Linked DNA regions of Homo sapiens: regions 1, 3 and 4 are each linked to region 2. Evidence: fine-mapped expression QTL. A gene starts in region 2. Each other region holds a variant in brackets. All regions are shown on one strand. Distances are between the middles of the regions.

Region 1 (5,159 bases), 73 kb before region 2:
GTCCTGAAGATTAAATTGATATAAAACAGATAAACAGGAGAGAAACATACAAATTTATACAATACAAGTTTTATGTGGCATGGGAGCCGCATAAAGCTCCCAGGGAACCAAGACCCAAAGAGTGGCAAAGCCTCCATGCTTTATTACATTGAACAAAGAGAAGCAATTGTGGAAAGTAACTACATTATATGGGGAGGCCAAAGGAAGGTCATTATTTTAACAAGGTCTGGTTTTACAGAATCCTCCCAGCTGTGACTCCGCATTGAAGAATGTTTCCTTTCTACTGATACAAGGATAAAATCATTCACATGGGAGTTTTAATCTCCTGTTTTCAGGAAGAAAGGTGGATGATTGGAATGCCCCCTTCTTGCACCTGCTGTAATTCAAATGACTTCAGTTTGAAGTCATCCTATGTCAAAGTGGCATCGTTTGAAGTGGTACATTCTGCTACTCTCAGGGACATCCAAACATTGGAATTTTATTCTGCCCTAAAAAGACATGAGTTATGTTGCTTGAAAAGACATGGAGAAACTTTAAATGAATATTGCTAAGTGAAAGAAGTCAATCTGAAAGGTTATGTACTGTTTGATTCCAATGATAATGCTATTCTGAAAGAAGCAAAACTATTAATAGTAAAAGGAACAATGGCTGCCAGGAGTTAGGGAGGAGGGAGGGATGAATAGGCAGAGAAAAGAGAATTTTAAGGCAGTAAAACTATTCTGTATGATACTATAATGGTGGATACATGTCGTCATACACTTGTCAAAACCCATAGAAGAGAAGATACACCAGGAATAAACCCTAATTTAAACTATGGGCATTGGATGAAAATAATGGAACAAAGGAGAGTCATCAATGATCAAGTATATCATCCTGGTATGAGATGTTGATAGTGGGGGAAGCTGTGTGTGGGAGCAGGGAAGAATCTCTGCTTTCTGCTCAATTTTTTTCTAAGTACCTAAAACTGCTCTAAAATATAGCCTATTTTTAAAAAGCCATGTCTTTTGTGCATGGTCATAGGCATGAACCTCTAATGAATGAAAGAACAGAGTGCTGCACCTATTATGAGTTTCCCAAAATGCTTTGGATTCTGCTATAGTCATGAATATTTTCTTATTTATGCTTGATATTTTTATATAAAGTTTTTCAGCAACCACCAGGAGAGAAATCATAATCTCAAGTCTGAATATTTTCTTTTACTCATTATTTACAAGCTGATCTTTTCAAGATTATTTGCCTTTTTTAAACATTTTACTTTGTAGAACTACCACTGGATCCGGCAATCCCACTACTGGCTATCTACCCAAAGGAAATGAAGTCATTTTGTGAAGAAGGCACAAGTACATGTGCATGTGCATGTTTATATGTTTATAGCAACACAACTCACAATTGCAAAGATAAAGAACCAACCTAAATGCCTATCAACCAATGAGTGGATAAAGAAAATGTGATGTATGTACACCATGGAACACCACTCCACCATAAAAAGGAATAATGTCTTTTAAAGCAACTTGGATGGAGCTGGAGGCCATTATTCTAAGTGAAGTCACCCAGAAATGGAAAAACCAAATATCCTAGGCTCTTCTAAGTGGGAGCTAAGCTGTGAGGATGCAAAGGCATAAGAATGATATAAGGGACTTGGGGAACTTGGAGGAGGTTAGGAGGGGAGTGAGGGATAAGACAACATATTGGGTACAGTGTACACTGCTCATGTGACAGGTGCATCAAAATCTCAGAAATTACCACTGAAGAACTTATCCATGTAATGAAACATCACCTGTTCCCCAAAAACTACTGTAATAAAAACAAAACATAATAATTTTATTCCAGGTAAAGTCAGAGGCTTTAGCAGTACCACCAGTTAAATATCCTATGTTTAGAATTTGAAAATTCTTTGGATAAACAGTTGACATTACAAACATATATTTTTGAATTTGAATTTTTTATAATCAAATTACTTTTGCTATTTCGGATACTAATTTGCATGAATAATCAAGATCAATACTTACAGCATACAATTAATCTCTTAAGATAATAGTAGGCATAAGATGTTGGTAGCCAACTAGAGCCGAGATATTTCCATTAAATCTTTGTTTCTTAATCAAGAGTATACATTAGATTCATCTCTAGAACTTATTAAAATACTGACATCTTGATTCCTTCCCTCTGTGTTCAGATTTTGTTAGTATAAAGTGGTTGGTATAAATGGTTCTTGATACATTTTGTCAAGAACCATTATTACATGAAGAACTCTTTCAATATTTTTAGAAAATAAAAAATATACATATTACTTTACTCTTATTTCTTTTACTCCATGCTGGATTGATTACAAACAAAATAATTAAAGGATAAGAGAACA[A/T]ATATTGTAACAAACACCCTACATATACTTTAGTCACCGGAAAAGATCATCCAATATACCTAGGAATTATTCTGTAAGGAAAATACAGTTCCTCAAATAATCAACTGAGAACCTTTAAAAATTATAATTAATGATTAGGCAGTGATAAAACTGTAACCAATGTCACTAAAGCCACTGTGTTTTCAGATACTGAATTCCCTCGAAGGAAAATTTAAAGATGCTATGATCTATATTAAAAAAGTATTTCAAGTATTCTAAAAGTAGGTGAAATAACTTGTTCAGTGATGATATGAATAGGCAAGCTATTACTTGGCTTCCAAACTCATGATATGCAGCTCAGTTAGAAACAATTTTTCCATTACCCTGAGCAGTGCTGAAAGTTATTGATGAAAAGGTTGAGAGGGTGTTCTAATTTGAGCCTATGTCTCGCTTCCTGCTGGGGTTTATTTATGACTGTGTGTGTGACTGCAGTGTGGTTAGGGCAGGCAGCCAAGAGTCTGTAGCCATGAAGTACTGAGGGGCTCCCAGGGTGGGGAATCAAGCAAAAGGTACAGACAGGTTCTCTAGTTGGATACAACAGCAACACCATCCTGAGTACAAATTTTAGGTCTCAGAAGCAAAAAGAGCTGTGCTCAGTCTTTTTTATTTTTATTCACTAGGCTGATTTTGTTGTGTTTATGTGGTTTTGCTGTCTCCCATGATGGTATGTACAGCTCAGTCTTAACCATTAATTTTTATTCACTTGGCTGATTTTGTTGTGTTTATGTGGTTTTGCTGTCTTCCATGATGGTATGTTTGTTCTTTATAGACACTGTGAGTCTCATATAAATCCTGTTTACTTTTCTTGTTTACTTTTTTATTCTTAGATAGTTTGGAGTACAGTTTGGAGCTCATATTTATCAAACACGTAGGGCCGTATATTTTAAATTTCACAAGTCTCATCTGACCCATGGCTTTATGGTTTCTAGAACTTTCTTGCTTTCTGATTTTCTTAAATGTTCATTTTTGGGGGGTGTTATACTTTTCTAAATCTCCTAAGTTTGTGTATGCACAAATATGTATGTATCTTTGATGAAACATGGTATATATAAATACCTAAACGTATTCAAAAATAACAATTTTTGGTTTTCCATAGTCTTGATGATCTGCTTGCAGTTCCCTGAACATGTCATGGCCCTTGTGGATTCATGACTTAGCAAGGCTATTATTTAACTCCGTTATTTTCTAGAAGACTTTTTTTTCTCTTTTTCCTTTATAGATCTGATAAATTGCCTAGAGTTCAAGATTTAAACGGCACCTCCTCTGAGAAACTTCTCATGCCTTCTCTTGATAAACATTTCCTCTGTACTTTCTTGTTCTCATAGTTTAGCAATTTATTTTAGTGATTATTTATTTCTATATTTATGTCAGTCTCTAGAGCTAGGATGAGAATCCCTGGACGGCAGGGAAAGAGGTTAATCCTTCTAGCTCCAGTGTCCACTTAGTAAATGGAGACTTTGTAAATGTTTGTATTGCAGAATTACAGAAAACAACCAGATAAGTGTAAATTACACAATGTATTAAGCTCAGAATCTTGGTGGAAGACTTTTGTTAGTTGATTTATTGAGTGCTTACCATTTCCCAGGCTCTCTGCTAATCACTAGTAACAAGAATGGGGAAAAATGAGAACGGATTTTCAGGAGTAGAAAATCAAGGGGCATAAGATTTGACTGCAGCAGAATGGCTATTACTAAAAAGTCAACAATGGATGATGGCAAAGCTGTGGAGAAAAAGGAATGCTTTTACATTATTGGTGGGAGTATAAATTAGTACAACTGTTGTAAGAGAGGGTGTGGCGATTGCTCAAAGACCTAGAGGCAGAAATACCTTTTGACCCAGCAATCCCATTACTAAGTACATAACCAAAGGAATAGAAATTGTTCTGTTAAAAAGACACATCCACTGTCTGCATTGCAGCACCATTCACAATAGCAAAGACATGGAATCAACCTAAATGCCCATCAGTGATGGACTGGATAAAGAAAATGTGGTATATAAGCAACATGGAATACTATGCAGCCATAAAAAGAAATGAGATCATGTCTTTTGCAGTGACATGGATGGAACTGGAGCACATTATCTTAAGCAAACTAACACAGAAACAGAAAACCAAATATGACATGTTCTCACTTATATGTGGGAGCTAAATGATGAGAACAAATGGACATATGCAGGGGAACAGCAAACACTAGGGCCTGTCAGAGGGGGTTGGGAGGAGGAGAAGATCAGAAAGAATTGCTGATGGATGTTGATCTTAATACCTGGGTGATGGAATGATCTGCAGCAAACCACCATGGCACCTGTTTACTTACCTATGTAACAAACCTGCACATCCTGCACATGTACCTCTGAAGTTAAAATAAAAGTTGGAAATGAAAAAATTAAAAAAAGATTTGACTGCAACTTCAGATACACTTTCACTGGAAACATTGCCTAGAAGAATTTGTTGCTGGAGATAAAATAGAATTCTCATATTTAATAATATAGTATTAAATGTGCTTCTCAGTGCAAAATAGTTTTGCTGCAGACAGTGTGGTTGTGTGAAAGGAAGTAAGATTCCTGTGCAAGACTGTCATAAATGTTAAGTGAAATTATACATGCACACATACGAACACACAAAAATACACACAAACTTGCATAAATCAGAATGTGCTACTGTGTACTTTTGTTATTACCTTATGATATCCTTACTTTAAGAAATAATCAAATTTGAAATTGGCTATGACTTTATTTTCTAAAAATTGTATGAATTCAGTCCATG
Region 2 (5,159 bases):
AGACCTAAATATTGTTTAGCTCATCCATCCTTAAGTTTAATGGAAATGGTGCAGCGTCTTCCCCACTGAATAACATCACGTTAATTATTTTTGAAGCCTGAGGAACAAACACAACTAACTGCCATCCAGGGATTACACAAATCCAAGGTGTAACACAATATGTTTTTACTAATTCATTTTAATACTTGCCTTCTCTCTCCCACAGAACTCACACACTGGATTAGTCTTGACTAGCAAAACCAGATCAGGAAAAAGAAAACTGTTATTTTGGTTTAGATGGGATAATTATTTTTGACTGTTTTGAGTCTTAGAAAAGCCAAAGCTCATTAACAACGTTAATATGAGAGACATTAGTCTGGATTGCTACATTATTTGTTCATGTGTTTGGGGTCATTTTGGAAATGGGAACATGAGTATGTAATATTGACATTTTCATTTTCGTTCAAATGTGTTTGAAACTGTTCAAAGAAATGTCTTCTTTCCAAACTGAACACATCATATTAAACGCTGAATTAGGGTTTACACAAGGATATTGACTTATGTCCTGGGATTCTCTGCATCTCCTCAAACCATCTTGTGGTTTTAAACTTCATGCATTAAAAGTGAGTACAAACAAAAGGGAAAAAACTGCATTTCTATTAGGTCTGTTATTTTGACTATTTAGATTAAACTGTATATTTTCTTTTCAGTCTTCCAGTTACCTTATAAAGGCAAGGAAGAACTGGTAGTTTGAAATAAAATAATTTCAAAAAGTGCTGTACCCCCTGAGTATTCTGCTGTAATAAGGTAAGCACCTTTCTCCTTTGTTGATGCAATCATTTACATCTTCACCCCGCAAACACCTGTCACATCCTTTTAAATATTTGTTTTTCCTTTTCCTAGGATGAAATCCCATAAGTCAATTTTTTCTCGGGATTGTGAAGTTCACTGCACACAACCAGCCTTATTTTACATCTCTTTCTTTTATTTCAACCATCTGGGGACTGGGCAGAAGTCATGGTCAGAGGGGCACATATGTATTGCTTTGATGATGGGGGCAGAGAACAAACAGGAAGAACTGGGAAATGAAAATTGCTTTACTTCTTATATTCTGACTAGAAAGGCAACCCAAATGGGAATCATAACAGGGATAGTTCAGTGGCAAAAAGACACCCTTAAAAATAGAAGCTAGAAGTTAAAGGAGGGGTGACATCACACTTTTAGAGTTGACATCAGAGGAAGTTGCATCTCTTGGTGCCATGTTATACATGCACCGTCGGGGCAGCAGAACTGATTAGTGTGCCCAGTTGCACAAAAGGACTGTAATGTGCATGGGCCCCAGTGTTAGCCATGTGACTCTGTTAATGGATCCAGCTTGATCTTTACGCTCTTCAACTAAGCTAGTGCCCAAGCAGTTCTTGTATTTCAGCTTAGAGGGGGTTCTGGAAAAGCTCTTGGTGATAGCATTTTTGGAGAACGGAGAGAAAAAAACATTTCTATTAAGTCTGCCTCAAAAAGTAGGAATTTCAGGTCAATGTTAAATGCCTGGCATGAGTTTTATATATATTTTTAATATTTCAGGCTTATTTTACCAAAAGAAAGCTGGTGTAACACGTTCACATCAGACAAAATAGGTATCAAAGCAAAAGGCATTAGAGATGAAGAGGATCACAGCACAGTGGGAAAAGGTTCAGTTCAGATATAGGTACATATTATATAAAGCAAAAATACACAGAAACAAAAGGAAAATAATTCGATATTTAAAGATATTAGGTTAAGTGAAATTTTTATAAGTCTTGAAAACAAATCAGAAACAGGTGAGACACAGGAAAATCATTTTTAGCAACAAAGTACTAAGAGGGTGCATGGACAAGGAAAACTTTTCCCTCCCTAAGCCCATACCTCTAGTTGATAATCTGTTCCCATCCCCAGGTCCCAGCAAACATTCTAAGACCCAAGAACAGGTTTACTGGGAGGAATTCGAGGCACTGCAGTTCATGTGCTGAGTTAAATAAGCTCTGGAAATAGAAGCTGAAGAATCACAATACCCAATCTAATTTAACCAAAGTCTAATTAGAGAATTTACCAGAAATTGAGAGACTTGCTAGACATAATTTCCTGTTAGGAAGTAGTATTTTTCTCCTTTCAAATTTTTAAATGTTTGGTATAATCAGCAAAATAGAAGTAAATTATCAATTTAAGCTTAACAGAGATATTTTGTTAAGTAATATCACAGTACCTTATAAATAAAAAATATTAATTATTTCCAGTTAGTCACACGTATTATTACTAATAATGAGTAAATACAAAAATATACACTCAAACAGAAAGAGCCAAACTGGCTCCCATAATAATAGTAGGTATTTTCCTAAGCCTTGTACACAGTAATAAATAAATAAATCTGCCACATCTTTACCATTCTTTAAATGACAAGCTGGGTTTTGATGAATTCCACTTTTTCAGTCAAAAATCATATTCATGATTTAAATTGTGCTGTATGAAATTGTCCCTTTTATTTCTGTATATTCTCAGATGAGATGCATACATATTGGTTCAAGACCTCTTGTTGCCTCTTTTTAACATTGTCTTTGTATCACTCGCAGCCCCCAAACAACAGGTTAAAACCAGCCCAACTGGTTAGTAAGATTGATTGAGAAAAAAGAAAAAGAAAAAAGTCAAAATAGTTTATACAATAAAACTATTAGGAGACTATGAAAAGTTCGCTAATGCATTCAATAGAACCTGAAAAAGAGCTAAATATGTACCTGCAACAGAGAGGAGGAGACTGACTGGCAGGAGACCTTGCAACATGCTGGGTGATTCCAGGAGCACGGTGTCTGCTCTTCTCGCTCAGGTGGGTGCTGCTGGGTCTGTCCCTGCCTCCTCTCCAGTGAGACAGAATGAAACTCCCTGGTTCATTCTTGTCTCTGATTCAGGAAGTGTTTACTAAAGGTGTTGCGCAACCTCGAAGCTGTGGTCCTGCAACAATGGCCCAGCAGGCGGAAGTCCTGGCTGCCTCCTGGCTCTAAGATTACTTGATCTGAACTATTGTTTTGCTCTCCTTTGCCATACTCCCCACTCCAAAGTAGTACATTTCCAACATATTACTATAGCCAGATAAGCTACAAGGAAAGAGGCAACTGCATTAATGAGTCTTGAAAAACATGCTAGACATTTATTTACATTACGGATATGATATATAAATATATGTTTAAATATATTTTTATATATATACAGTTGTAGGAAAAAAGTTATTAAGAATGTTATTTTTCCCCCACATACATAATGTGGTTATGTAAAGCAATTTCTAATTCAACCTAATTACTATATAGCATTCTCTTTTCCATTATTTTATGTTCTATTCCTCACACAAGTGTACTCTCAGGAAGTTTGAACTATCCTGAAATAAGAATGTCTGACAATATAAGCACAATAATTTTTAGATCCTTGGGGGTATTTGTGTCATAACTGGCAATGAGGAGTGTGGAAGAAGGATTCAAGACCCAAAGGATACAATTTTAGGATCTGTCACTGGTGGTAGTAAGGCTAAACTGGGCATGTCTAAAAATCATACTTATAACCAATAAAATAACTAATATCAACTGAGCTGCTTATTAAGTTTTAGGTACTGATAGGGTTTGGTTGTGTCCCTACCTGAATCTCATCTTGAATTGTAGCTCCCATAATCCCCATGTGTTGTGGGAGGGACCCAGTGGGAGATAATTGAATCAAGGGGCGGGCTTTTCCCATGCTGTTCTCATTATAGTGAATAAGTCTCATAAGATCTAATGATTTTATAAAGGGCAGTTCCCCTGCTCAGGCTCTCTTTGCCTGCCTCCATGTAAGATGTGTCTTTGCTCCTCCTTCACCTTCTACCATGAGAGTGAGGCCTCCCCAGCCATGTGAAACTGTGAGGCCATGAAACCTCTTTTTAATTTACCCAGTCTCAGATATTTCTTCGTGATAGTATGAAAATGGACTAATACAGGTACTCTCCTAAATCTACTGTACTTGTTATTTTATTAGTCTTTATGATACTCATGTATTATGCATTTACAATCATTTTGCAGGTGAAAATTTGGGGTTTTAAAGGCAAAATTCAAAAGATTAAGAATCAGTTGTCCCCTCATTGTATAGATTAAGAAGATTAAGCAGATAAAGTCACCTATCCAGTAAGTGGTAGAAGTGGAATCTGAACTATGTGTTGTCTGGGCTCTTAGTCATATACTCTAATGCTTTCCCTTGGCTTAGCTGACTTGTACTCCCAGTATCATTTCTATTGAAAAGATTCTGGGAGAATAGAAATAATTATGAAATTCCTAAGGAATAGAAATTACGCTGAGGACCAGTTATTACCACAAAACCTAGTCCTAGTCCACTAAAATCATGCATCATTTTACAGATTCTGAAACACATTCTCATACTAGAGGGATTACAGTGATTATTGATGTCTCCAAATGATTATACAGTCATCAACTAAAACCACAAAGGAATTTTTGAGTCTAGTTACTGAGCATTTTAACCATCAGGATTGCGATTCACAGATTTCTTGCCTTTTCAACCCAAGTTCCATTGCTTTGTCTTTTCCAGGGAACAGAAAGGATACTTCAACTTTTAATTATTACATATTTTTTCTCCATTAATTCAACGTAATTTTACTTACAGCTATTATGTGTCAGACACTGAGATTGCAGTTGAAAAAACACAATCATGGCCGGGAGTGGTGGCTCATGTCTGTAATCCCAGCACTTTGGGAGGCTGAGGCAGACAGACTACCTGAGATCAGAATTTGAGACCAGCCTGCCCAACATGGTGAAACCCCATCTCTACTAAAAAAAAAAAATTAGCTGGGTGTGGTGGTGGTCACCTGTAATCCCAGTTACTCAGGAGGCTGAGGTAGGAGAACTGCTTGATTGCTTGAACCCAGGAGGCAGAGGCTGCAGCGAGCTGAGATTGCAACAACACACTCCAGCCTGGGCAACAGAGCGAGACAGTGTCTCAAACAAACAAACAAACAAAAAACACAATCACTTTCATTGAGATGTTCACAATCTGACAAAGATAAGTTCAATTACCATAAAATTGCACAGAGTGAGTACCACCTATAAATGATCACAATATCACAAGGTGTTTAGTGTTACAATAGATTTATCAATAGAAGTCAGAGGTCTACACCAAAC
Region 3 (5,159 bases), 55 kb before region 2:
TTTTAAGTAAGCACTTTTCAAGGCATGGAAGCTTGGAACTAAGCTGACACCAAGAGACCAGATAGAAAATCACAGTGGTCCTGCTGGCGTATTCCATAGAAGTATTTCCCAGAGCTGTAATGAAAAGTTTTCATCAAAAAATGATTACCAATGTTATAAATGATTACCAATGTTATTAACCAACTTCAGCTAAAATCTTTAAATTTACAGGACATGAGTAGGACATTTGGGTTATAAATATTACATGTATTATCATACAGACATACATATTTTTGTATCTATTTTGTCAATTTGCAAAGAAATAAGCTAGAGGGAGTGTGTGTGTGTGAGAGAGGGAGAGAGAATGAAGCAGAGACAAAGAGAGAGACAGACAGACATCCGGTATGTGCATTCTTTGTTCTCTTTATTCTGTTTGCATTTCATGAACCCCGGCAAAGTAGCCTCGGCATTTTAGGGACTCTTTTGCCTTTAACAAAAGGCAAAGGAGACATTTCTGAATGTGTTACTGCAAAACGCTGCTGGGTAGAAATGATAGATAGGTAGTCAGGATAAGAGTGTGAGAGAAACGCAAAGTGGGGCCATGGTAATCACAGCCCAGACTATATAGTTCACCTCTTGGGGTTGAACAGCCTTTACCATCTGGGGTTTCCTCTTCTGTTTGTGTGGCCTGGTGCCAGTGGTAGATAGTGGCCTGTAAGAGAGAAACACATGATATCAATTGACTTAGCAGCTCCTTCAGCATGACAGGGAAACTCCGTAGAAGATTCCCAACTTCTTTTTCCCATTGTGTCTTTCTTGCCTATTGCCTGGGTTTTTATCTGCTCCCTGGGTCAGTTTTTACTTCCCCGTCAGCCTCTTTCATTGCCTTGTAATTCATAATCACTACTAGTTTTCTTTTTTCTCCAAAAACCCCTGACTTCTAAAAATGATAGTGTTGAATCCAAATTTTATCTAAATTATGTTGTTTTATTAATGTCTTACTCAATATTAAAAAACTCATCATGAGTAAATAAGTCTTTCTTTAAAAGTGCTAAAAAAAAAAAAAAAAAAAAAAAAAACACCGTTGTGCCAGAATCACGTTCGTGAGACAAACCCAGCCTCCACCACTTACTCTGCAAGACTGAAAGCATGTTTGCTAATAATCTCTCTGAGCTTGTTTCTATATCCATCAAAATGTGAAGTTCCTAACCTTGCAAAATTGTGTAAGGGTTAGCATAAAACATTTCTCATCTGTAAAATGAAACTCATGACCACTTTATGAAGTTCTTGTGAAGTGTAAATAAGATAATAGATATAAAAGGGCTTAGCACACGGCCGGGTGTGGAGACTCACACCTGTAATCCCGGCACTTAGGGAAGCCAAAGTGGGTGGATCATTTGAGGTCAGGAGTTTGAGACCAGGTTGGCCAACATGGTGAAACCCCATCTCTACTAAAAATACAAAAATAACCCGGTGTGGTGGTATGTGCATGTAATCCCAGATACTCGGGGCTGAGGTAGGAGAAGTACTTGAAACTGGGAGGTGTGGAGGTTGCAGTGAGCCGAGATCGCAGCATCGCACTCCAGCCTGGGCCACAGAGGGAGACTCTTGTCTCAAAAAAAAGTGGGTGGGGCGGTGCTTAGCACAGTGCTCATCGTATATTGATCAAATAATGTTAGATATTATATTCTTACAACAAATTCAAAAAATCTGTCATAATGAGAGTTAATATCACTCTTATTATTATAACTACGGTGACTAACAGAAGGAAAAACAAAAAACATTTCTAGATGTGAAGGATTTCTCAGTTAAAGGGAAACCCAGTTTCTCGTCCAAAAAGACCATCTGCATGTATTTCTGAATATTAGAAGTAAACCAATTCAATTTGAAAGGATAGGTTATACATTGAATTTAAAGTAAAGTAAAATAGGGGTCAAAGAGTCCCTACAGCAAGATAAGATAAAGGATCACCTCTGATCTTTCTTCTGCTTTTCTCTGGAGCTCTGGTGCCGGATTACCATAGCAACCACCACAAAAATGACCGCCATTGGGAACAGCACCCCAACCACAATGGAGAAGTCTGCAGCAGAGAACAGGGGCCCGCTGAGGACTGCAGAAACACACATCTGCACAACACACTAGTCCTTGTTTCTTTACTTAGCACATATTCCAGCTACCCTTTTCTCCAATGAACATAAATTCCCATAGCCAGTAAAATGAAAAAGTATTTTGATCAGGATAATTATATTAATATTAGGTAGAATAAATACACATGAAATCTATAGGAAACATTTAACATGAAATAAGTTAAAAATCATAATATTGAGAATACTTAGATAATGTTTGTAACAACTGGGAAATGAGCTGGGAGATTAGAAGAGAATATACAGTAAGGAAGATGGCAAAGAAGAAATGAAACATTTTTGAAAAGCAGTCTTGGAATAAAACAGAGAAAAAGAAACTAAAACTTTGAAAATACATTCCTGTCATTAGTGAATAAGAAGCTGAGGTGTGACTAAGAAGACAAATAATCGAGTGTTCCACTGATGTTGGTCTACACTGGAATTAGACAGGAAGTTATGTGACCTTGAGAATGAGGAAATGGTTTGAACAAATATTCCTGGGCCTCCATGGTGTTTTTTCTTGTACTGACAAATTTAAATAATGAATATAACTTCACTCTTTTGCTCTTAACTGTTCATTTCTCTTACAATAATCTGAAACCACAAGAGACCAGGAAGGAAAAGATTGAAAAGCAATGCCAAAAGTTACCGTTCTCTTATTACAGAAATCAGCAAACCAATAGCATGATTAATATTTGTATAAATGCAAGAAAAGTTCACAAGTGTGAGCACACACACACATGCAGATAGAGGTAGACACATCAGAAGCAGAATTCTAGGTAAGACAATGACTTTAGTTCAAATATTCGCTACTCGCCACCCTCCATAAGATTCCAATCCAAAAAGTCAAAGGAAAATAAAACAGTGAAGCATTCTGTTATAGTGTAGATACATTCAGAATGAAAAA[C/T]ATACACTTACTTGCACTAATATCAGAACTGTAACTATTTTCAGAAGAATGACATATTATCAGAGAAATAAATGGGAATTTGGCAGTACTTCACAAACACACCAAACTTGAAAAGACATGGTCTGGAGCTAAAATTGGGGCACAGGACAGATGGAAGTATAACAACGGAAGGTTTGCAGGTGAAGATAGAAATCACTGAAGAGTAAGTGCAGCCTCTTCTTGTTTCTGGTAATGGTGGACTAGGAAATTGAGATCAACCTGCCCATTAAAAATAATCTTTTAATCTTTAAATTTTTTGCAAACAAGCAAACAAAAGCATCCTAAAAGTATAAAAGTACTTAAATGTTAGATAAAATTACTTTGTAGAGATTAGTGAGTGGGCAAGGACCTGGAGAGACAGAAAATAATCCTAGATAAAAGTTCAGAAATGCAGAAAGAAATGAAAGGCAAATGAACCAACAGCAAACCCTAATGTAAACTGTGGGCTTGGGGTGATAATGATGTGTTAATGTAGGTTTATGGAGTATTTGTTACCATCAACGAATACTCCACGAGAATGGGGGATGTTGATGGTGAGGGAAGCTGTTCAGGAGTGGGAGTTGCTGGGTATATGTCAACTGTCTGTTCTTTCTCTTCAATTTCGCTGTGAACCCAAAACTGCTCTACAAAAGAAAGTAAGTTAAGTTTATTTTTTTAAAAAAGCAAATGAATTGGGAAGTTTTAGGGTAATCATTAAAATATAAAAGAAATGCATAACATCCAAGTTAATAAAATAATAAAATCAATAAGTCTATAAGAAAGTAAGAAAGGAGAGAAAAGGGAACATAAACAGGAAAGACAAATAGAAACTATATAATTGTGGATTTATACCCAAGTACATCAGTAATTACATTTAATTTAAACGGACTAAGTTCCTCAGTTAAAGAAACAAACAAAAACCAAAGATGTGAGTACTACTAAAAACTATATGTGCATGCTTTCTTTAATAAAAGAAAAAAAGACTTAAAACGTGATTCAGAAAGGATAAAAATGAAAATATGGAAAAATGTTATTTCAGGGCAAATACAGACCAAAACAAATACGTTACAGCTATATGGTCTCCAGGAAGTGTATATTCTCAAAGGTAAGAAGTGTACTAGATAGACACAGCACCATTTCATCATGATACACTGTTCATTAATTTGGAAGAAGCAACACTCTAAACTTGTATGTATATAATAATACGCTCTCAAAGTATAAAAGTATTGATAGAGCCAGAAGTAGTAATCAAATTCACAATTACAGTGGGGGGTATTTTAACACTCCCAGCACAGTAATTGGTAGAACAAATAAACAATGTTAGGCTTAATTTATATATCAGACAATTAATAAACTTGATAAACAAAATATCTGGAGAATACTACAGAACACGTATATGAAAAAATCACAGTCCAATATCACCCATGAATATAAAATAGCCAAAAAATACAAATTCTTCCGGAGAATATAAATGAATACTCTCCAATACACTTTATGCGACTAGCATAACCTTGATACCAAAATTCAGCAATTTTTTCAATATGAAAAAATCACAGTCCAATATCACCCAAGAGTATAAAATAAGAGTAAACATCCTTCACTATATAAAAAAGATATTATTTCTAACTTAGGTTTATTCAAAGGTTGCAAAGTTAGATAAATGTTCACAAACCAATTGACTTATTTGACAGTACTAATAGAGTAAAGGGGAAAACATTTTAATAAATAAGGAAGTATTTGACAGAATTCTTAGAAACTTGAAAGAGAACTAGTGGACCTTAATCCAATCACTAGAATGGATGATCTTGAAAGCATAAGGTAGAGAAAAAGAAGAAAATGAGCATAGAAAAATTTCATACATACAAACTTTAAAGACTCTTGGTGATAATGATGTGTCCGGGTATGTTCATGGATGTAACAAATGTATGTCTCTGGTGACAGTGTTGATAGTGAGGGAAGCTGTGTTTCCTGTGTTTAAAAACTTTATACACATGGAATTATATAACCAAAAGCTGCTGTTTAAGGATGTGTATTTAGGAAGCAAAACTACAAAGAAAACTAACAAAATGATTATGACAAAAGAAAGATTAATGGTCAACCCTTAGAGAAAGAGGGGAGATCAGACTGAAAAG
Region 4 (5,159 bases), 87 kb before region 2:
CTGAGACTGAGGTGGTCGCGTGCATATCTACATACTCACCAAACTGGACCATTACGATTGTTGTTCAGTATCCTTATAGAAATAAATCCACATATTTAGGACATATATCAGTATTCTGTACATATTTTGAGATACTGTCACAGTGAACACAGAATCTAAAAAGCACCAGGTAAAGTCCTACAAACCAAGATACTGAAAATCTCTCTAACATTCAGTCTCCTAATGAGTCAACAGGGGATGCTGATAATTTTAACTGCCTCAAGATTCTTATAAAATTCATATGCATTTGCACACACACATATGCACATGCATGTAAAATTGTAAAGAAATGTGCATGTATAAGAAATGTACAAGAAATTTAAATAACCTTGACAGTGCTGGCCTTAACCGAACTATACAACATATGAAGTATGTTCGAGGTGTACTTTCTGAGTTCTACCTTATACAATAACAATGTTTCTCTGACAAATATGGTAGATTTTCATGATTATAATATCACAAGTTTATTATGAGAAAAAAGTTGACTGCCAATGATCCGACATCAAGAAATAACTTCTGTTAACGTTTTTACAATTTATTTTCATCTTCTTATGCAGAAAAGGAAAGCTAACCTTATTGGGCAAAGGGTTTAAGAAACTTATTTTTTTTTCCATGGCACTATGACATAAGCATTCTCATGACATTGAATATTAAGACATAATTTTAGTGATTTTAGAATATCATATTTTCTACATATGTGTGTGTTGAGTGTCCATGTAATGTTTGGTTGTGTATATTTCTTTAATTGAATTTCTGGTGACTTCAGGATAAATGTCTAGAAGTGCTATTATTTAGCTAAAAAGGGTAAATCAACTTGAGATTATTGATAAACATTGACTCAGTGCTTTTCAGAAAGTTAGGGCCAAATTAAATCATTATGTATAGTTTTCCCAATCTAAAAACCCATACCTTCTAACTGCTGAACTTAACTTTTCACTGATACATCTGGGAGTTTCCTAACATCTAATTGGAACTTTAAAAATCCCCTCTCTATGTCTATTCTTCACTTTGTTGCTGTTCTACCTTCCTTTAAAATAGTAACATTTTCTCTATAATTTTGCATTTCTTTTTCTGGTCCAGAGATAGGCATCCTTCTTATATCCTTTATGACCCGCCATTAATATTTTAACAAAGTATAATGCTAATTATGTCTCTATCATCAAATAATAAAAGAATCCTGGAATGGTGAACTCTTATCAGTGCCCTACCCTTTAGCACATTACATGTTGTTGTCAAGTATTTTAGTTTATCATGATTTTGACCCCCATGTTACTCATTATTTTTGTGTGTGTTTTCTACAGATGTTTGAAATTATTCATGTGTACCACCTTCTTTGCTCGCAGGTCCTTTTAGCATCAGTTATTTTTTTTTTAATTCTTCATTAAACATATTCTTTTTTATTATTTCTATAGGTTTTTGGGGAACAGGTGGTATTTGGTTACATGAGTAAGTTCTTTAGTGGTGATTTGTGAGATTTTGGTGTACCCGTCACCTGAGCAGTATACACTGAACCCAATTAGTAGTCTTTTATTCCTCACTGGCTTCCCATCCTTTCCCCCTGAGTCCCCAAAGTCCATTGTATCATTCTTATGTCTTCACATCCTCATAGCTTAGCTCCCACTTATAAGTGAGAACATACAGTGTTTAGTTTTCTGTTCCTGAGTTACCTCACTTAGAATAATAGTCTCCAATCCCATCCAGGTTGTTGCAAATGACATTAATTCATTCCTTTTCATGAATGAGTAGTATTCCATCAAATACATGGTGTATATGTGGTGCATATATATGGTATATATGCATGTATGTATGGTATACATCATATATGTGTGTGTGGTATATACATATATACACCAGTTTCTTTATCTACTCTTTGAATGATGGGCATTTGGGCTGGTTCCACGTTTTTGCAATTGTAAATTTTGCTGCTATAAACATGCAATACACAATGAAATACCACCTTACTCACATAAGAATGGCCATTATAAAAAATAAAAAAATCATAGATGATGTTGGTGTGGATGCAGTGAAAGGGAACACTTCTACACTGCTGGCTGGAATGGAAACTAATACAGCCACTATGGAAAACAGTGTGGAGATTCCATAAAGAGCTAAAAGTCTAACTACCACTTGATTCAGCAGTTTCTCTACTGGATGAGATTTGGCTATCTTTTGGTGACCATTATTGCTGTGGACAATTTTGCTTTCTGGCTATTTAGCGGGAACTAATTTGCTTATTAATTATACAACTAGTATTGCTAGGGCAGTTGAATATTTATTGAAATCATATTAAAGTTGTGTTTCTAATAAATTGCTACTACATTTCTAAGGATTCTAAGCTGACTGATACTGTCCTTGCTATTCACATATTCCCACAATAAAGTCTAATAATGGAGACACAACCACAAACAGGTAGTCTGTACAAATATGAAGTATTATGATTGATATTTGTGTATTGTGCTGAAATCAATTTTAGAAAGGCCATATCACTTGATAGGTGGAGAGAATCAGATAATACCTGGAAAAGGAATAGTGGAGCTGGTACTATGAGCAAAACCATGAGTATATAGAAAATCATACTGTTTGTTGAAGTGTATGTTCCTCATGACTTGAACGTAACATAAAGGAACCAACCCAAATGCCCATTAGTGATAGACTGGATAAAGAAAATGTGGCACATATACACCATGGAATACTATGCATCCATAAAAAAGGGTGAGTTCATGTCCTTTGCAGGGACATGGATGAAGCTGGAAACCATCATTCTCAGCAAACTAACAAAAGAACAGAAAACCATACACCACATTTTCTCACTCATAAGTGGGAGTTGAACAATGAGAACACATGGACACAAGGAGGGGAACATCACATACC[G/A]GGGCCTGCTGGGGGGTGGGGGGCTAGGGGAGGGATAGCATTAGGAGATATACCTAATGTAGGTGACGGGTTGATGGATGCAGCAAACCACCATGGCATGTGTATACCTATGTAACAAAACTGCACGTTCTGAACATGTATCCCAGAACTTTATAATAAAAAAGTAATAGGTATGTGATATAAAACTTATAACACATGCAGAGGCCAAGTTATGGGGGAACAAATGATCTTAAAGAAGGTACATATTTGAGAGATACTTAGCTTACACAATTATCAGACTTGCTGATTGATTGTATGTAGCCACTCCCAGTTGGAAGACACAGAGGAATCTAGAATGAGTTCTAAGGTTCAGCTTGAGCCACTATATAAATCTTCCAATTTGGTGTCTTGATGGAAGTTGCAGTTTGTTAATCCATTAAAAATGGAGTTATATATCCTGGGGCACCCTTCAGGACCACAGCACCATGATGATAATAGATGTTTAAAATATTCATTTAATATATGAATACCATAAAAAATTTGAAAACTAAACTCTGCATAAGATACAGATGCTGTTTATTAGATAGTTGAATATCAGCCTATAAATCAAAACTGTGGGAATAACAGTGAAGAAATTGTTTACCCAATGCATCTGGAGGGAATGAGAAATAGAATATATACAGAGCCTTATGAAGACAATATTTAAGGATTGACTAAACATAGGATTTAATTTATGATCCTAAAACTAAGAAATCACGACCAACATCCTGATTACAAAGAATTTTATTCCCATAAAGCTTGCAACTTAACATTTTAGAATGTTGCATAATAACATATTTTTGATTTGGGGCGGATGTTTAAATGTTGTCAAGCTACAAATGAAAATAGAGCAGTAACATGGACAAAAATTATGATAATGTCTTGCACAAGTAACGACTTTTGCATACATGATTTTCTTTGGTCATAATAACAACAGATACAAGTAGTCAGTTCAAAGATTGTGGTTCCCATTTTATAGATGACTCAAAGAGGTTAGGTGATCTAGTATACTTCAAATCACCCAGGTATGTAATAGATGTCTCCAAGGTCATTAAGGTGGGAAAAGACGTGCTTGATAAAGAATTTCAAATATTTTACTGTGGGAGATCTCTATGATGGCTTCAACTGCTGCAAAGAAGAAGCCTGTCTCAAGGATATGATAATGTAAGAGTCAGAGGTTCGAGATGAGAAGTAACATAGTGGTGGCCAAGCTCTGAACTCCTTTGATGCTCAGGAATCCCTATTTGCTTATGACTGGCATTGGGGGAGGGATCATGTTCCCTACCTCGGTGGTCTATCAATATATTGGAATTATCTAATGAGATAATTTTTTCCAATCTGAGCTTGTCCAAACCCACCAGGAATCCCTACTGGATGAAGCTGTGTTAATAGTAATATTAGCTAACAATTATATAGCCATGCATTGTTCTAAGTGGCTTGCATGCATTCAAACATTTTATGTTCATTACAACCCTATTTAAAATATATTTAAACAAAAAAAAGTTTAAATATCTTGTCTGGATCCTACCAATTTTGCTGACCCATATAATGTCAGTACATCCAGTTTTTCTGTTTTTTCTAATTATGAACATTTTTATCTTAAAATTATAATTGCTAAGACTGAAGTAACATAGCAAAAACTTATTGTTATATTCAGAGCCCAAATAAAGATACAAGTTTATGCACATAAATTATACTTTTTGCTATGGAGATCAATGAAATAAATCTTGCATTAATGATACCTTGATGAGCTAGAAAAAAATACATATATATAATATAAAATGTGTATAACACATTATCTTTTTGCCTTTACAATTCTCACATTTCTTCTAACATTATATATCTGTATAGTGTACATAGGTTGTATATATAATGTATATTTAATATATAATTACATATATTATATATTACATAATATATAATGTATAATATATAATACAAGTAGTGTATGTAATCCATTGTTCTTATTTACAAGTTTGTTTTGGCTCTTCTGGGTCTGCTACATTTTGATACCAATTTTGATTCAACCTATCAGTTCCCAATAAAGATCTTACTAGGATTTTGATTGGGATTGCATTGAATCATTGAGCCAAACTGGTAATAATTGATATTCTGATGCATAAACACGTGTATTTCTTCGCTTAGGTCTTTTTAAATATTTGTCTCATTGATGGTTTGTAGTTTTTAAAATAGAGTACGTGGACAAATTTCATCAAATGTGTTTTGAAATA

Direction of the effects. Positions count from the first base shown, and alleles are read on the strand shown. Sizes are in standard deviations (SD) of each study's normalised expression. Not every link is listed here.
As copies of A replace G in region 4, the expression in monocytes of the gene that starts at base 2,871 in region 2 goes up (moderate effect, 0.57 SD a copy in BLUEPRINT).

The links. PIP is the estimated chance that this variant, and not a neighbour inherited with it, causes the effect. A credible set is the group of variants that fine-mapping cannot tell apart.
Region 1: its variant is the best candidate, but not a certain one, in a credible set for the expression of ADAM28 in blood mononuclear cells (TOPMed, PIP 0.59).
Region 3: its variant is the best candidate, but not a certain one, in a credible set for the expression of ADAM28 in blood mononuclear cells (TOPMed, PIP 0.90).
Region 4: its variant is the best candidate, but not a certain one, in a credible set for the expression of ADAM28 in monocytes (BLUEPRINT, PIP 0.54).

Annotation. Positions count from the first base shown.
Region 1 is chr8:24,365,165-24,370,323 of GRCh38, reverse strand. The region is part of intron 3 of ADAM7-AS1 (ADAM7, ADAMDEC1 and ADAM28 antisense RNA 1); the gene reads left to right. Among named protein-coding and RNA genes, the nearest start is that of ADAMDEC1, 17 kb to the left of the region's middle. The variant A/T (reference allele first, on the strand shown) is at 2,360.
Region 2 is chr8:24,291,781-24,296,939 of GRCh38, reverse strand. ADAM28 (ADAM metallopeptidase domain 28) reads right to left here and starts at 2,871. Exons shown (of 23, transcript NM_014265.6): 1 at 2,745-2,871. The coding sequence starts at 2,790. ADAM7-AS1 (ADAM7, ADAMDEC1 and ADAM28 antisense RNA 1) reads left to right here. Exons shown (of 6, transcript NR_125808.1): 5 at 690-786; 6 at 883-1,126.
Region 3 is chr8:24,346,764-24,351,922 of GRCh38, reverse strand. ADAM28 (ADAM metallopeptidase domain 28) reads right to left here. Exons shown (of 23, transcript NM_014265.6): 19 at 1,951-2,059; 20 at 613-691. All of the region lies in intron 3 of ADAM7-AS1 (ADAM7, ADAMDEC1 and ADAM28 antisense RNA 1), which reads left to right. Among named protein-coding and RNA genes, the nearest start is that of ADAMDEC1, 35 kb to the left of the region's middle. The variant C/T (reference allele first, on the strand shown) is at 3,010.
Region 4 is chr8:24,379,078-24,384,236 of GRCh38, reverse strand. The region is part of intron 3 of ADAM7-AS1 (ADAM7, ADAMDEC1 and ADAM28 antisense RNA 1); the gene reads left to right. Among named protein-coding and RNA genes, the nearest start is that of ADAMDEC1, 2.6 kb to the left of the region's middle. The variant G/A (reference allele first, on the strand shown) is at 2,911.